Linked DNA regions of Homo sapiens: region 2 is linked to region 1. The links come from fine-mapping of genetic effects on plasma protein levels. A gene starts in region 1. The other region holds a variant in brackets. All regions are shown on one strand. Distances are between the middles of the regions. Region 1 holds the start of PLA2G1B (phospholipase A2 group IB). Region 2 overlaps SIRT4 (sirtuin 4).

Evidence for each region. PIP is the chance, under the fine-mapping model, that this variant and not a neighbour inherited with it causes the effect. Protein levels are from antibody-based Olink assays in UK Biobank. Linkage for the fine-mapping came from a reference panel and not from the study's own genotypes, which makes the PIPs less certain.
Region 2: its variant is fine-mapped to the plasma level of the PLA2G1B protein (UK Biobank, PIP above 0.99).

Annotation. Positions count from the first base shown.
Region 1 is chr12:120,323,193-120,331,522 of GRCh38, forward strand. PLA2G1B (phospholipase A2 group IB) reads right to left here and starts at 4,587. Exons shown (of 4, transcript NM_000928.3): 1 at 4,528-4,587; 2 at 2,669-2,828; 3 at 1,742-1,869. The coding sequence starts at 4,561. RefSeq lists an enhancer at 2,484-2,543.
Region 2 is chr12:120,304,080-120,312,367 of GRCh38, forward strand. The region is part of intron 2 of SIRT4 (sirtuin 4); the gene reads left to right. Among named protein-coding and RNA genes, the nearest start is that of SIRT4, 5.9 kb to the left of the region's middle. The variant C/T (reference allele first, on the strand shown) is at 6,703.

The DNA of each region.
Region 1 (8,330 bases):
ATTACATATAATTTACGTATCTCTGCTTACCTTCAGGAATCTTATTAGTTTTGTTTCTCTCCGATCCTTTATTTTATTTATTTATTTTTTTGAGATAGAGTCTCGCTGTGTCGCCCAGGCTGGAGTGCAGTGGTGGGATCTCGGCTCACTGCAACCTCTGCCTCCCAGGTTCAAGCAATTCTCTTGCCTCAGCCTCCCGAGTAGCTGGGACTACAGGCATGCATCACTACACCCAGCTAATTTTTGTATTTTTAGTAGAGATAGGGTTTCACCATATTGACCAGGCTGGTCTCGAACTTCTCACCTCAAGTGATCCACCCACCTTGGACTTCCAAAGTACTGTGGTTACAGGCTTGAGTCACTGTGCCCAACTGAGTTATTTTTAATTAATATGAACAAACATCCTCTAATGCAGGTTTCTTGTCTTAGTTGCAAACATTAAAAAAAAACTGTGTGTGAGTGTGTGTGTGTGTGTGTATTTCTCTGGGGAGAGGGTTCATAGCTTTCATCAGATTTGTAAATTTGGCCTTCTAAAGTGGAGCAGGAGGATGTATAAGCAAATTAAGCCATATTATTCAGTGACTAAAATAGTAACAATGAAAAAACAGTAACAATAAAGGTTTGAGGCAATATGAAAAAGTCATAACAAGGTGATAAGTGAAAAAGCAGAATGCAAGATTGTATTTATTCTGCAAAGTTGTCAAGATTGTTTTAAAAAAAGAAAAAGAAAGTTTATATCTAGGCTGTGCATTCATCAATTATTTATTGAGCACCTACTATATGTCAGACACTGCTCTAGATCTGGGGATATAGCAATAAAGAAAATAGACAGTAATCGGCCAGGCACAGTGACTCACGCCTATAATTCCAGCACTTTGGGAGACTGAGGCAGGCAGATCACTTGAGGTCAGGAGTTTGAGACCAGCCTGGGCAACATGGTAAAACCCCATCTCTGCTAAAAATACAAAAAATTAGCCAAGCATGGTGGTGCACGCTTGTAATTCCAGCTACTCAGGAGGCTTAGGCAGGAGAATCGCTTGAACCCGGGAGGCAGAGGTTGCAGTGAGCTGAACGGAGGTTGAGGTGATGAAGTGAGACTCTGTCTCAAAAAAGAAAGGAAGAAAATAGGCAGTAATCCCTGTTCTGTGGATCTTACATTCTATTGGAAAGATGGAATGTAAAGAAATAAGTAGCCGCACATGGTGGCTCACCCCTGTAATCCCAGCACTTTGGGATGCCAAGGTAGGAGGATTGCTTGAAGCCAGGAGTTTAAGACAAGCCTGGCCAACGTAGTAAGACCCAGTCTCTACAAAAAAATTTTTTTAATTAGCCAGGCGTGGTGGTGCACGCTCGTAGTCCCAGCTACTTGGGAGGCTGAGGTCAGCAGATCCCTTGAGCTCAGGAGGTTGAGGCTGCAGTGACCTATGGTTGCACCACTGTGCTCATGCCTGGGTGACAGAGCAAGACCCTGTCTCTAAACAACAACAAAAAAAAACCCAAACTGTCACCACTTACAAGCTGTGTGATCTTGGGCAAATAGCTCAGCCTTCTGAGCCTCAGTTTTCTTATCTGTTAAGTGAGGATAATTGTACCTATCCCATAGTGTTGTTCTGAGGATTAAAGGAGACACTGCCCAGAACCAAGAAAATTAACACTAAATCATGGCTGTTGTTACTATTATTTCCCCCCGGCCTACTGAGAACCAACTAGAATTCATAGGTCAAGGAAGGGATAAACCTACTGCTACAGGTGATTGCCGAGCCAGAGCACGAGTATGAATAGGTGTGGGTGTACGGGTTGTCCAGCAGAAATTTACAGCTGTCCAGCTTCTTGGCCTGGTCATAGCAGTTGTCATGTGTCTGGCAGCACCTGGAAAGTGGGAGGGACAGCTGAGATAGGAGTAAGTGCAGAGCAATAGGTCAGCCCTCACCTGCCCACTCTCAGGAACAGGTGGGGATGACTTCGCCAAGATGCTTCAGGAGAAATGATCCTATGGCTTGAAAAAATATAAGTCCTTTTATCATATATTTATTGAAAGCATTTTTTTTTTTTGAGACAGAGTTGCTCTGTTACCCAGGCTGGACAGCAGTGACACGACCTTGGCTCACTGAAACCTCCAACTCAGTCTCCCAAGTAGCTGGGGTTACAGGCGCTCGCCACCATGTCCGGCTAATTTTTGTATTTTTTAGTAGAGACAGGGTTTCACCATGTTGGCCAGGCTGGTCTCGAACTCCTGACCTCAAGTGATCCGCCCGCCTCGGCCTCCCAAAGTGCTGGGATTACAGGCATGAGCCACCGCGCCTGGCCTGAAAGCGATTTTTAACATGGTTGCAAGAATACAGTAAAATCCTGTATTCAGAAGGTGCAGTGACAACCACTGCTAGAAAATGACACGTGGATAGTTGCTGTGATGTTTACTGTTGCTACATTCTGCCACTGGAGGGCAGCATCGCCCACTGTTTTGCACGTCGGTCATTGTTTCCATCTCTAACGGGGTGCGTTCGCTACAGGGTCCTCTTGGAACATATTTGTTTATTTGACAAGAGGTGAAAATATGTTATCCTTAGCAGATATGCAAGTCCCCTTTGTATGCCTCGTGAGATCCTTGGCGTGTGCCCCACCCCGCCCCCGGCAGGCACTCCAATTTTCCTGCAGGCGGATCACTTACTTGTCCAGTTCATCCACGGGGGTGCCTGAGCCCCCCAAGCCACAGTAGCAGCCGTAGTTGTTGTATTCCAAGAAGGGGTCACTCCCCGGGATCACGCACTTGATCATTTTGCGGAACTGCCACACGGCCCGAGGGCTGATGCCGCTGTCGGCGGCGGCCACTGCAAGAAGACATAGCCAGAGTTCAAATCGGTCTGCCAGCACCCCGGGGACACACTGCCTTCCTGCTCCCTCGGGTCCCACGCTGCCTCCCTGACCCCTGCCAGCTGCCTCCTCTGAAGACCGTTGGACCCAGGAACCTGGTAAAGTGAAAGTGGGTAGAGGTTTTTTTTTTTTTTTAATGAAAACTTTATATATATAAAGTTTATATCTTTGTGTGTGTGTATATATATATATATCTTCTTCTTTTTCTTCTTCTTCTTCTTCTGGGACCCTACCGCCTCAGCTAGGATTACAGGCATGTGCCACCCAGCTAGGCCTGATAGTTTTTTTTTTTTTTTTGAGATGGAGTCTTGCTCTGTTGCCCAGGTTGGAGTGCAGTGACACGATTTCAGCTCACTGCAAACTCTGCTTCCCGGGTTCACGCCATTCTCCTGCCTCAGCCTCCCTAGGTCAGATAGTTTTAAACTATCTGCACTGTTTATCCAGTGAATATTTATTGAGCACTTACTATGTGCCAGGCTCTGTCCTAGGAGCTAGAGATACAGCAGTGAACAGATATAATAATAATAATAATAATAATAATAATAATAATAATAATAATAATCTCTAACCTCATGGAGCTTACAACCTAGTGGGAGAGAAAAACAATAAATAATAAATGTGATAAGGCCGGGCACGGTGGCTCATGCCTGTAATCCCAGCACTTTGGGAGGCCGAGGCAGGCGGATCACAAGGTCATGAGATCGAGACCATCCTGGCTAACACGATGAAACCCCGTCTTTATTAAAAATACAAAAAAATTAGCGGGGCGTGGTGGCAGGCGCCTTTAGTCCCAGCTACTGGGGAGGCTGAGGCGGGAGAATGGCGTGAACCCAGCAGGTGGAGCTTGCAGTGAGCCGAGATCGCACCACTGTACTCCAGCCTTGGCGACAAAGCAAGACTCTGTCTCAATAATAATAAGAATAATAATAAATGTGATAAGTAAGGAAACTGGATACTGCATTAGAAAGGGGAAGAATAGAGCAGGATGAGGAGAATCTAAAAGGGAGGTCACCCAGCCTGGCCAACATGGTGAAAACCTGTCTCTACCAAAAAAAACACACAAAAAATTAGCTGGGCATGGTGGTGTGTGCCAGCTACTTGAGAGCTACAAGTCCCAGCTACTTGAGAGGCTGAGGCAAGAGAATTATTTGAACCCAGGAGATGGAGGTTGTAGTGATCTGAGATCACGCCACCGCACTCCAGCCTGGGCGACAGAGTGAGCCCCGTCTCAAAAATAAAATAAAGTAAAATAAAAATAAAAATTAAAATAAAATAAAATAAATGGGAGATTGGCCTAACTACTTAGTTGAGTAAGGTGGGAGGATCACTTGAGCCCACGAGTTGGAAGCTGTGGTGAGCTATGATCATGCCACTGAACTCCAGCCTGGGTGATAGAGCAAGACCCTGTCTGGAAAAAAGAAAATAAAGGCAAGCTTTCTTAGCTCAGGCAATCTGAGTTCAGACTTGCAGGTTGAAAAAGTGCCAGCCTTGAGGGAACCCCAATAGAGGAGCCCTTAAGCCCCACTGGGAACCTCGAATTGAGACTGCGGGGCTGGCCATCCCTGTTTGCTGTGGCCTGTGGCCCCCATTCCAGAGGAGTGAGATCTTAGCTCACTTGGGAGAGAAAGGCGGGTGGAGCCGGGGAGACTTGCCTACCTGTGAGCAGCACAGCTAGCACAAGGAGTTTCATCTTGCAGTCAAGGTGAGAAAAGAACTGAGATGACCAGTCTCAGGTATAGTCTTATAGTCAGTCTCCACACAACCCTGCCCAGATAAGGCTGGAGTGTTTGCTTTGCTCTTGGCTGAGTTTGGGGCTGGCCTTGAATCTGTCTGTTGCAGGAATGACCCTGACGATTTGCCAGCATGGGATCACTGGAAAATATGTTATGCATTTGTCCTTAGCAACTGTTAACCAAAGGGATGGTTTCTGGAGTTTTCAGATCTTACAATCTTGACCCTCATACCCACCACTTTGTACTCAGCCCAGCTTCACGGGCTGGTTGGGGAAAGCAAAGCCGTCAGTTCAGTCGGACGCTGGGATAAGGGAGACAAGAAGGAAGTGCAGCCTGGGCAACATAGAGAGACCTCATCTCTAAAAAAAAAAATGTTAACCAGGTGTGGTGGTGGATTGCACCTGTGATCCCAGCAACTCAGGAGGCTGAGATGGGAGGATCTCTTGAGCCAGGGAGGTCAAGGCTGCAATGAACAGTGATTGAGCCTCTGCAGCAGAGTGAGACCCTATTTCAAAAAAAAAAAAAAAAAAAGAAAGAAAGAAAAAAGATCGCTGCCTGCAGCCTCAATGTCTTATCAAGTGCCTGAATCTGTGCACTGGGTCTGGTTGAATAGTCCCATCAGTCGTGCACCTTGCAGATAAAGAGACAGGTTCAGAGAGTTGCGGTAACTTGCCCAAGGTCACACAGTTGGCAAATGACAAAATAGGGCTCCAGTTTAGATCTGTCTGATTCCAAGGCAGAGGTTTTATTTTTTTCCACCACTCCGCTCTGCAGTGTGGGTTTGTGAGAAAAACCTGGGCTTTGGATTCCAAAGGCCTGAGTCTGAATTATAGAATACTAAAGGGCATTAGAACTGTCATATCAGAGGCCAGGCACGGTGGCTCATGCCTGTAATCCCAGCACTTTGGGAGGCTGAGGCTGGCAGATCACCTGAGGTGGAGAGTTCGAGACCAGCCTGACCAACATGGAATAACCCTGTCTCTACTAAAAACACAAAATTAGCCAGGCATGGTGGCTTATGCCTGTAATCCCAGCTACTCCGGAGGCCGAGGCAGGAGAATGGCTTGAACCCTGGAGGCGGAGGTTGCGGTGAGCTGAGATCACGCCATTGCACTCCAGCCTAGGGAACAAGAGCAAAACTCCATCTCAAAAAAAAACCTGTCACATCACATATCTATTTATTTATATATATTTTTTGAGACGGAGTCTTGCTCTGTTGCCTAGGCTGGAGTGCAATGGCGCGATCTTGGCTCACTGCAAGCTCTGCCTCCCAGGTTCATGCCATTCTCCTGCCTCAGCCTCCCAAGTAGCTGGGACTACAGGCACCCACCACCACGCCCGGTTAATTTTTTTTTTTGTATTTTTAGTAGAGATGGGGTTTCACCGCATTAGCCAGGATGGTCTCGATCTCCTGACCTCGTGATCCACCTGCCTCGGCCTCCCAAAATGCTGGGATTACAGGCGTGAGCCACCGCGCCCGGCCAAATATCTACATAACATTGTTTAGCTGAAATTCACATAACATTAACCACGTTTAAGTAAACAATTCGGGGGCATTTAGTACCTTCACAGTGTTGTGCAACCATCACCTCTATGGGGTTCCAGAACATTTTTATCACTCCAGAAGGAAACCCTGTACCCATTAGCAGTCACACTCCCTCAGCCCCTGGTAACTGCTAATCTGCTTCTCTCTCTCTCTCTCTTTTTTTTTTGAGACAGAGTTTCGCTCTTGTCGCCCAGGCTGGAGTGCAATGGCACGATCTCGGCTTACTGCAACCTCCGCCTCCCAGGTTCAAGCGATTCTCCTGCCTCAGCCTCTCGTGTAGCTGGGAATTACAGGCGCCTGCCAGCATGCCTGGATAATTTTTGTATTTTTAGTAGAGACAAGGTTTCACCATGTTGGTCAGGCTGGTCTCAAACTCTTGACCTCAGGTGATCCACTCCTCAGCCTCCCAAAATGCTGGGATTATAGGCATGAGCCACTGTGCCTGGCCTCTGATCTGCTTCTCTCTATATAGATTTATAATTGGTTAACTTGGTGCTCTTCTGTTCCTATGTCACCTCTACAACAACCCTGTGGGATAAGGAGGGCCTGGTTATTTAATTTATTTATCTGTTTTTTTTTTTTGAGACAAAGTGTCGCTCTGTTTCCCAGACTGATGTGCAGTGACACGATCATAGTTCACTGCAGCCTCAACCTCCTGGGCTCAAGCAATCCTCCCACCTTAGCCTCCCGATTAGTGGGGACTACAGACATGTGTCACCACACCTGGCTAATTTAAAAAAATTTTTTGGGCCAGGCACGGTGGCTCATACCTGTAATCCCAGCACTTGGGGAGACCGAGGCAGGCGGATCACGAGGTCAGGTGATGGAGACCATCCTGGCTAACACAGTGAAACCTTGTCTCTACTAAAGATACAAAAAATAAGCTGGGCATGGTGGCGGGTGCCTGTAATCTCAGCAACTTGGGAGGCTGAGGCAGAAGAATGGCGTGAACCCAGGAGGCAGAGTTTGCAGTGAGCCGAGATCACGCCACTGTACTCCGGCCTGGGCGACACAGCGAGACTCTGTCTCAAAAAAATTTTTGGAGACACGGCGTCTCCCTATGTTGCCCAGGCTGGTCTTGAACTCCTGGCCTCAAGTGATCCTCCCATCTAAGCCTCCCAAAGCATTGGGATCACAGGCGTGAGCCACTGTGCCCAGCAACCTTGATAGTTTTGAGGAGTATTGGTCAGGATGACCCTCTCTTGGAATTTGTGTGTGTGTGTGTGTGGGTGTGTGTGTGTGTGTTTGTTGTAGTCTCACTCTGTCGCCCAGGCTGGAGTGCAGTGGCACAATCTCGGCTCACTGCAATCTCTGTCTCCCAGGTTCAAGTGATTCTTGTGCCTCAGCCTCTGAGTAGCTGGGATTACAGGCACGTGCCACCACGCCCAGCTAATTTTTATTTATTTATTTTTATTTATTTTTGAGACGGAGTCTCACTCTGTCACCAGGCTGGAGTGCAGTGGCGCGATCTCAGCTCACTGCAACCTCTGCCTCCCGGGTTCAAATGATTCTCCTGCCTCAGCCTCCCGAGTAGCTGGGACTACAGGTGCACACCACTGCGTCCAGCTAATTTTTGTATTTTTAGTAGAGACGGGGTTTCACCATGTTGGCCAGGATGGTCTTGATTTCTTGACCTCATGATCTGCCCGCCTCAGCCTCCCAAAGTGCTGGGATTACAGGCGTGAACCACTGCACCTGGCTCTCTATTGGAATTGTCCTGTGTTTTTCTCATAATTAGATTACAGTTATGGGTTTGGGGGAGGAAGACCACAGAGGCAAAGTGCCATTTCATCACATGGCTGCTTTATGTTTAATCATCTCTTTTCTGGGCCGGGCGTGGTGGCTCATGCCTGCAGTCCCAGCACTTCGGGAGGCCGAAGCGGGTGGATCACCTGAGGTCAGGAGATCGAGACCATGGTGAAACCCCATCTCTACTAAAAATACAAAAAATTAGCCGGGCGTGGTGGCGGGTGCCTGTTGTCCCAGGTACTCCCGAGGCTGAGGCAGGAGAATGGCGTGAACCCGGGAGGCGGAGCTTGCAGTGAGCCGAGTGCCACTGCACTCCAGCCCGGGTGACAGAGTGAGACTCTGCCTCAAAATAAATAAAAAAAAAATAAAAATAAAAATGAAATACCATTAAAAGTTCAGTTTCTCAGTCACAATGGCCACATTTCAAGGCT
Region 2 (8,288 bases), 19 kb before region 1:
TGAACGCAAACCCGTGTGTTGTTTTGGGAGAGTAGGGACCTTGGCTGTCTTGATCACCACAGTCTTAGACCTTGAGAAAAGGATTTCAGAGCAAGTTGTTTATTTTGCAGTTGATTCCAGTAAATTCATTGACGGAGCAAGGATGTAAAACAGGAAAGAGAGGAAAGCCAAGAAAGTGTGTGTTAATGAGTGGGTTACTGCCTTGGGCACTGGGGTTCAGTCCTGTGAGGGACCCTCCAACTGTCTAGGACATGCCTGAGGATTGTCTCAATGAAACTTGAGGACTGGGGCCGGGCGCAGTGGCTCACGCCTGTAATCCCAGCATTTTGGGAGGCTGAGGTGGGCAGATCACATGAGCTCAGGAGTTCGAGACCAGCCTGGCCAACATGGTGAAACCCCATTTCTACTAAAAATACAAAAATTAGCCAGTCGTGGTGGCACATGCCTGTAATCCCAGCTGCTTGGGAGGCTGAGGCAGGAAAATCTCTTGGGAGGCAGAGGTTGCTGCAGTGAGCCGAGATTGCACCACTACACTCCAGCCTGGGCAACAGTGCAAAAAAAAAGAAAAAAAGAAAAAAAAAAGTTGAGGATGGTGCACAGTGGCTCATACCTGTAATCCTAGCACTTTGGAAGGCTGAGGCAGGAAGATTGCTTGAGGCTAACAGTTCAGGACCAACCTGGCAAACACAGTGAGACTCTGTCTCTATATAAGTAAAGTAAATTTTATATATATATATATATATATATATATATATATTTTTTTTTTTTTTTTTTTTTTTTAAAGAAAGTTGAGGCCGGGTGTGGTGGCTCACGCCTGTAATCCCAGCACTTTGGGAGGCCAAGGCAGGCAGATTACCTGAGGTCAGGAGTTCAAGACCAATCTGGTCAACATGGTGAAACCCCGTCTCTACTAAAAATACAAAAATCTGTTGGAAGTGGTGGCACGCACCTGTAATTCCAGCTACTCAGGAGGCTGAGGCAGGAGAATCGCTTGAACCTGGGAGGTAGAGGTTGCAGTGAGCTGAGATCATGAGCTGAGATCATGCCACCACACCCCAGCCTGGGCAACAGAGCAAAACTCCGTCTCAAAAAGAAAAAAAAAAAAGAAAGTTGAGCAAGCTAGGGTGATTTTCTTTTATTTTCTTTTGTGTTTGTGTGTGCACGTGTGTGTGTGTGTGTGTGTGTGTGTATGACAGGCTTTCACTCTGTCACACAGACTGGGATGTGGTGGTGTGATTATAGCTCACTTCAGCCTCAATCTCTTGGGCTCAAGTGATCCTTTCACCCCAGCCTCCTAAGTAGCTGGGACTACAGGCAAACGCCACCGTGCCCAGCTAATTTTTAATTTAATTTTTATTTTTTGTAGAGACGAAGTCTTACTATGTTGCCCAGGCTGGTCTCGAACTCCTGGGCTCATGTGATCCTCCTGCCTTGGCATCTCAAAGTGCTGGGATGACTAGTGTGAGCCACTGTGCTTGGCCTTGAAGCTAGGGTATTTATTCACCATCTCTCATCCCTCATGGGTCCAGGATCACTCTAGGGGAATTAATTCCCTAACATTTTGACTCTGCTCCTCCCAAGGAGGCTTCCGTGGGCAGAGAACATCTGAGGCAAGAGAGACACAGGAAACTGCTTGTAAGAAAATTGTGTAGGCTGGGCGCGGCGGCTCACGCCTGTAATCCCAACACTTTGGGAGGCTGAGGCAGGCGGATCACGAGGTCAGTTGATCGAGACCATCCTGGCTAACATGGTGAAACCCCGTCTCTACTAAAAATACAAAAAATTAGCTGGGCGCGGTGGCGGACGCCTGTAGTCCCAGCTACTCGGGAGGCTGAGGCAGGAGAATGGCGTGAACCTGGGAGGTGGAGCTTGTGGTGAGCCGAGATCGCGCCACTGCACTCCAGCCTGGGTGACAGAGCGAGACTCCGTCTCAAAAAAAAAAAAAAAAGAAAGAAAGAAAATTGTGTCCACCAGGGTGCTGTGGTTCATATCTGTCATCCCAGCAACTCAGGAGGCTGAAGCAGGAGGATTACTTGAGGCCAGGAGATCAAGACCTGCCTGGGTAACACAGCCAGACTCCGTCTCTACAAAAAATTTTTTTAAGAAAGGAAATTGGCTGGGCACGGTGGCTCGCGCCTGTAATCCCAGCACTTTGGGAGGCTGAGTTGGGCGGATCACCTGAGGTCAGGAGTTCGAGACCAGCCTGACCAACATGGAGAAACCCTGTCTCTACTAAAAATACAAAATTAGCTGGGCGTGGTGGTGCATGCCTGTAATCCTAGCGACTCGGGAGGCTTAGACAGGAGAATAGCTTGAACCCAAGAGGCGGAGGTTGCGGTGAGCCGAGATTGTGCCATTGTACTCCAGCCTGCAGCCTGGGCAACAAGAACAAAACTCCGTCAAAAAAAAAAACAAACAAAAAAACAGAGAAAGGAAACTGGGACGGGTGCGGTGGCTCATGCTTGTAATCCCAGCACTTTGGGAGGCAGAGGCAGGCAGATCACTTGAGGTCAGGAGTTCGAGACCATCCTGGCCCACACGGTGAAACCCCATCTCTACTAAAAATACAAAAAATTACCTGGGCATAGTGGCGCACGCCTGTAGTCTCAGCTATTTGGGAGGCTGAGGCACGAGAGTCGCCTGAACCTGGGAGGCAGAGGTTGCAGTGAGCCAAGATTGTGCCACTGCACTCCAGCCTGGACAACAGAGTGAGACTCTATCTCAATAAAAAAACAAAAAGAAAGGAAACTGTTCGAACGTGGCCTTTAGCATGTTCTGAGGAAAATATGAGCTGAACACCAATAGCATGTGCTATAAACTGCTGGGTTTCCAATGCCTAGGATGGCTAGATACATAGACCATAACGTAGCCGGGCAGTAGTCAGAACTCAATCAATAATGAGGGAACAGATACATGGGAGGGTATCATGCTTATGGGTCTGGCAATAATTGTAGCTAATTGGAGACTTATTTCTTTAAGCCCTAGAGAGGCTCCTCTGAGGGCTGAAGTCAGTCTGCCAATGCTGAAATATTTACTGGGTGCCTAGAATGTATGGTGTACATACGTTACACTATGTAGTACATTATAACACTAACTACTGTGCTTCTTAGTGGTCAGAACCAAAGTATAGGCTGGGCTCAGTGGCTCACACCTATAATCCCAGCATTTTGAGAGGCTGAGGGGGCGGATCACTTGAGCTCAGGAGTTTGAGACCAGCCTGGCCAATATGTCGAAACCCAGTCTCTACTAAAAATAAAAGATTGGCCAGGCGTGGTGGCGGGCGCCTATAGTCCCAGCTACTCGGGAGGCTGAGGCAGGAGAATTGCATGAACATGGGTGGCAGAGGTTGCAGTGAGCCAAGATCGTGCCATTGCACTCCAGCCTGGGCGACAGAGGGAGATTGTCTCAAACAACAAACAAAAACCAAAGTATAAAACATGGCCCACTTTATATGCAAGAACTTTGTAATATTTGGGAAGACACAAAAATAACATAATTGGCCGGGCACGGTGGCTCACGCCTGTAATCCGAGCACTTTGGGAGGCCGAGGCAGGGGATCACCTGAGGTCAGGAGTTCAAGACCAGCCTGACCAACACAGTGAAACCCTGTCTCTACTAAAAATACAAAATTAGCCAGGCATGGTGGTGCATGCCTATAATCCCAGCTACTCAGGAGGCTGAGACAGGAGAATCATTTGAACCCGGGAGGCAGAGGTTGTAATGAGCTGAAATCGCACCATTGCACTCCAGCCTGGGCAACAAGAACGAAACTCCTTCTCAAAAAACAACCAAGCAAACAAACAAAGAAAAGCACATAATTAATGATAAATGACAACGCATGATTGTGAAATTGTGTGGTTCTTGATTTATATGCTGTGCATGTTCAAATAAACAGATTTAGTAAAGATTGGAATAATCAGTTGAGAAAGCTTTTTAAAAAAAAAATTTTTTTTTTTAAATAGAGACAGGATCTTGCTGTGTTGCCTAGTCTGGTCTCGAACTCCTAAGCTCAAGCCCTCCTCCTGCCTTGATCTTCCAAAGTGTTGGGATTACAGGTGTGAGCCACCATGCCTGGCCCAAGAAAGCTTTTTTTTTTTTTTTTTTTTTGAAACACAGTCTTGTTCTTGTTGCCCAGGCTGGAGTGCAGTGGCACGGTCTCGGCTCACTGCAACCTCCGCCTCCTGGGTTCAAGTGATTCTCCTGCCTCAGCCTCCCAAGTAGTTGGGATTACAGGTGCCTGCCACCACCCCCAGCTAATTTTTTGTATTTGTAGTAGAGGTAGGGTTTCATCATGTTGGCCAGGCTGGTCTCGAACTCACTCCTGACCTCGTGATCCGCCTGCCTCGGCCTCCCAAAGCGCTGGGATTACAGGCGTGAGCCACAGCGCCTGCCCCAAGAAAGCTTTTATGGGTACAGGGGGCTTGAGATTGGCTCAGGTTTGTCTAGGCAAGAGCGGGAAACAGGGCTTTCCAAATGAAGGGAAGTTGTAGATCCCAGAGGAGTCTGGCCTGGCCTCTGTAGAGGTTTGGACCTGGGACTTGCAGAAACCAGATTGTCTGGGAAAGTTAGGCCCAAATCATGGTTACATTTGAAAATCAGGCAGTGCAGTTGGGTCTGCTGTGAGACACCAAAGGGGTTTATTAGTGGTTTCTGAGCAAGCAAGCAACATGATAAAAATAGCATTTGAGGAAGGCTAAACAGGATTAAAAAGAGCAGGTCAGGGAGGTCAGCCTGAAAGACCTAGACTAAGGTGGTATCCAGGGAATTTGAGTTAATGATGCTTATGGATTCATTAAAACAATTTTTTCCGCCGGGCGTGGTGGCTCATGCCTGTCATCTCAGCACTTTGGGATGCCGAAGCGGGTGGATAACCTGAGGTCGGGAGTCAAGACCAGCCTGACCAACATGGAGAAACCCTGTCACTACTAAAAGTACAAGAACAACAAAAAATTAGCCGGGCATGGTGGCACATGCCTGTAATCCCAGCTACTCGGGAGGCTGAGGCAGGAGAATCGCTTGAACCTGGGAGGCGGAGGTTGCGGTGAGCCAAGACTGTTGTGCCATTGCCCTCCAGCCTGGGCGACAAGAGTGAAACTCTGTCTCAAAAAAAACTCACAATTTTTTTCATGAAGAAAATCTGTTCTTTTAATAATGAAAATTTCAAACTTCACAAAAGTAAAGAGAATTGTATAATGAATTCTCATATACCATCACCCAGATTCCAAGGTTTTATCAAGATTTTGTCATGTCTACTTTATCCATTCTGTCTCTTCTTAAGCATTTTAAAACAATCCAGGACTTCTTGACATTTCACAGGGGCCTTTTTTTCTTTTCTTTTTTTTTTTTTTTTGAGACAGAGTCTCACTCTGTCGCCTAGGCTGGAGAGCAGTGGTGAGATCTTGGCTCACTGCAACCTCCACCTCCCGGGTTCAACCGATTCTCCTGCCTCAGCCTCCTGAGTAGCTGGGATTACAGGCATGCACCACCATGCCCGGCTAATTTTTGTATTTTTGGTAGAGACTGGGTTTCACCGTGTTGGGCCAGGCTGGTCTCAAACTCCTGACCTCAGGTGATCTGCCTGCCTTGGCCTCCCAAAGTGCTGGGATTACAGGCATGAGCCACTGTGCCCGCTTTCTTTTTTTTTTTTTTTTTTTGAGATGAAGTCTTGCTCTGTCACCTAGGCTGGAGTACAATGGCATGATCTTGGCTCACTGTAACCTCTACATCCTGGGTTCAAGCAATTCTCCTGTCTCAACCTCCTGAGTAGCTGGAATTACAGGTGTGCACCACCACACCCGGCTAATTTTTTTGTATTTTTGTAGAGACAGGGTATCACCATGTTGGCCAGGCGGGTCTCAAACTCCTGACCTCAACTGATCCACCCATCTTGGCCTCCCAAATTGCTGGGATTACAGGTGTGAGTCACCGTGCCCGGCCTGGCCTTTTTTTCTTTTTTAGACAGGGTCTGGTTCTGACACCCAGGCTAGAGTGCAATGGTGCCATCATAACTCCCTGTAACCTAGAACTCCTGGGTAATTAGAACTCCAGCTAATTAAAAAATTTTTTTTGGCTAGGCGTGGTGGCTCACGTCTGTAGTCTCAGCACTTTGGGAGGCCGAGGTGGGCAGATCACAAAAATTAGCTGGGCGTGGTGGCAGGCGCCTGTAATCCCAGCTGCTCGGGAGGCTGAGGCAGGAGAATCGCTTAAGCCCAGGAGGCGGAGGTTGCAGTGAGCCGAGATCGCGCCATTGCACTCCAGCCTGGGCGACAGAGCAAGACCCCGTCTCAAAAAACAAAGACAAGCCAAAAAAATTTTTTTTGTAGAGAGAGCGTCTTGCTGTCTACCCAGACTGGTCTGGAACTCCTGAGCTCAAGCGATTCTCTTGCTTTACGCTCCCAAAGTGCTGGGATTACAAGGTGTGAGCCACCATGCCTGGCCACAGGGGTTCTTTTAAGAGAAGAAAATCAACATAATCTGATGGCTGACTAGAACTAAAAGGAGAAAAATGAGGCTGGTTGTGGTGGCTCACACCTGTAGTCCCAGCACTTTGGAAGACTAAGGCAGGAGGATTGCTTGAGCCTAGGAGTTCGAGGCTGCAGTGAGCTATGATCATGCCACTGCACTCCAGGTAAGAGCCACCACGCCTGGCCAAGACCCTGTCTCTTTTTTTTTTTTGAGACGGAGTCTCGCTCGTTGCCCAGG[C/T]TGGAGTGCAGTGGTGCTATCTCGGCTCACTGCAAGCTCCGCCTCCCGGGTTCACGCCATTCTCCTGCCTCAGCCTCCCGAGTAGCTGGGACTACAGGCGCCCGCCACCACGGCCGGCTAATTTTTTGTATTTTTAGTAGAGATGGGGTTTCACCGTGTTAGCCAGGATGGTCTCGATCTCCTGACCTCGTGATCCGCCCGCCTCGGCCTCCCAAAGTGTTGGGATTACAGGCGTGAGCCACCACGCCCAGCCTGACCCTGTCTCTTAAAAAAAAAAAAAAAAAAAAAAAAAATAGGCCGGGCGCAGTGGCTCATGCCTGTAATCCCAGCATTTTGGGAGGCCAAGGCGGGCAGACCACCTGAGGTCAAGAGTTCGAGACCAGCCTCAACATGGAGAAACCCCGTCTCTACTAAAAATACAAAATTAGCCGGGCGTGGTGGTGCATGCCTGTAATCCCAGCTACTCGGGAGGCTGAGGCAGGAGAATTGCTTGAACCTGGGAGGCAGAGGTTGCGGTGAGCCAAGATCGCGCCATTGCACTCCAGCCTGGGCAACAAGAGTGAAACTCCGTCTCAAAAAAATAAAAAATAAAATAAAAAAATAAAAACAGACACAAAGTGCTCTCCCTCACTGGCTCAAGCTCTGGTGATTGGAGAGGTGAGAAGGGGGGCCAGGTGCAGTGGCTCACACCTGTAATCCCAGCACTTTGGGAGGCCAAGGCAGGCGGATCACCTGAGGTCGGGAGTTTGAGACCAGCCTTACCAACATGGAGAAACCCCGTCTCTACTAAAAATACAAAAAAAATTAGTCGGGTGTGGTAGAGCCTGCCTGTAATCCCGGCTACTCAGGAGGCTGAGGCAGGAGAATCGCTTGAGACCAGGAGGTGGAGGTTGCGGTGAGCCAAGATCATGCCATTGCACTCCAACCTGGGCAATGAGAGTGAAACTTGCTCTCAAAAAAAAAAAAAAAAAAAAAAAAAAAAAGAGGTGAGAAGAGAACCAGGAGACACTGTGTCCTGGAAACCAAGAAGGAGAAGCATTTTAGAAGGAATGGTAATAGACAGTGGCAAATTCAGCAGATGAGCAAGGGAAAGTATAGAGGGAAAAACGCAGGTTTGGGCATTAAGGAAATCAGCAGGCAAGGCATTTGCAGTCATGTTAAGGATAAAAGTGAGCTATAGCAGAAGGTTAGGAAGGAGTGTATAGGAAGGAAATTGATGGGCTGGGCGCAGTGGCTCACACCTGTAATCCCAGCACTTTGGGAGGCCAAGGAGGGAGGATCACTTGAGGCCAGGAGTTTGAGACCAGCCTGGGCGACACAGTGAAACACCGTCTCTACCAAAACTACAAAAATTAGCTGGGCGAGATGGCGCGTGTTTGTAGTGCAGTCCCTGCCACTCAGGAGGATGAGGTGGGAGGATAACCTGAGCCCAGGAGGTTGAGGCTGCAGTGAGCTGAGATCGTGCCACTGCATTCCAGCCTGGGCAACAGCCAGACCCTGTCTCCAAAAATAAAAAAAATAAAATAGAAAGTATGGCTAAAATGGGGTGGGGATTGTGTGTTAGGGAAAGAAAGCAGCGATGGAAG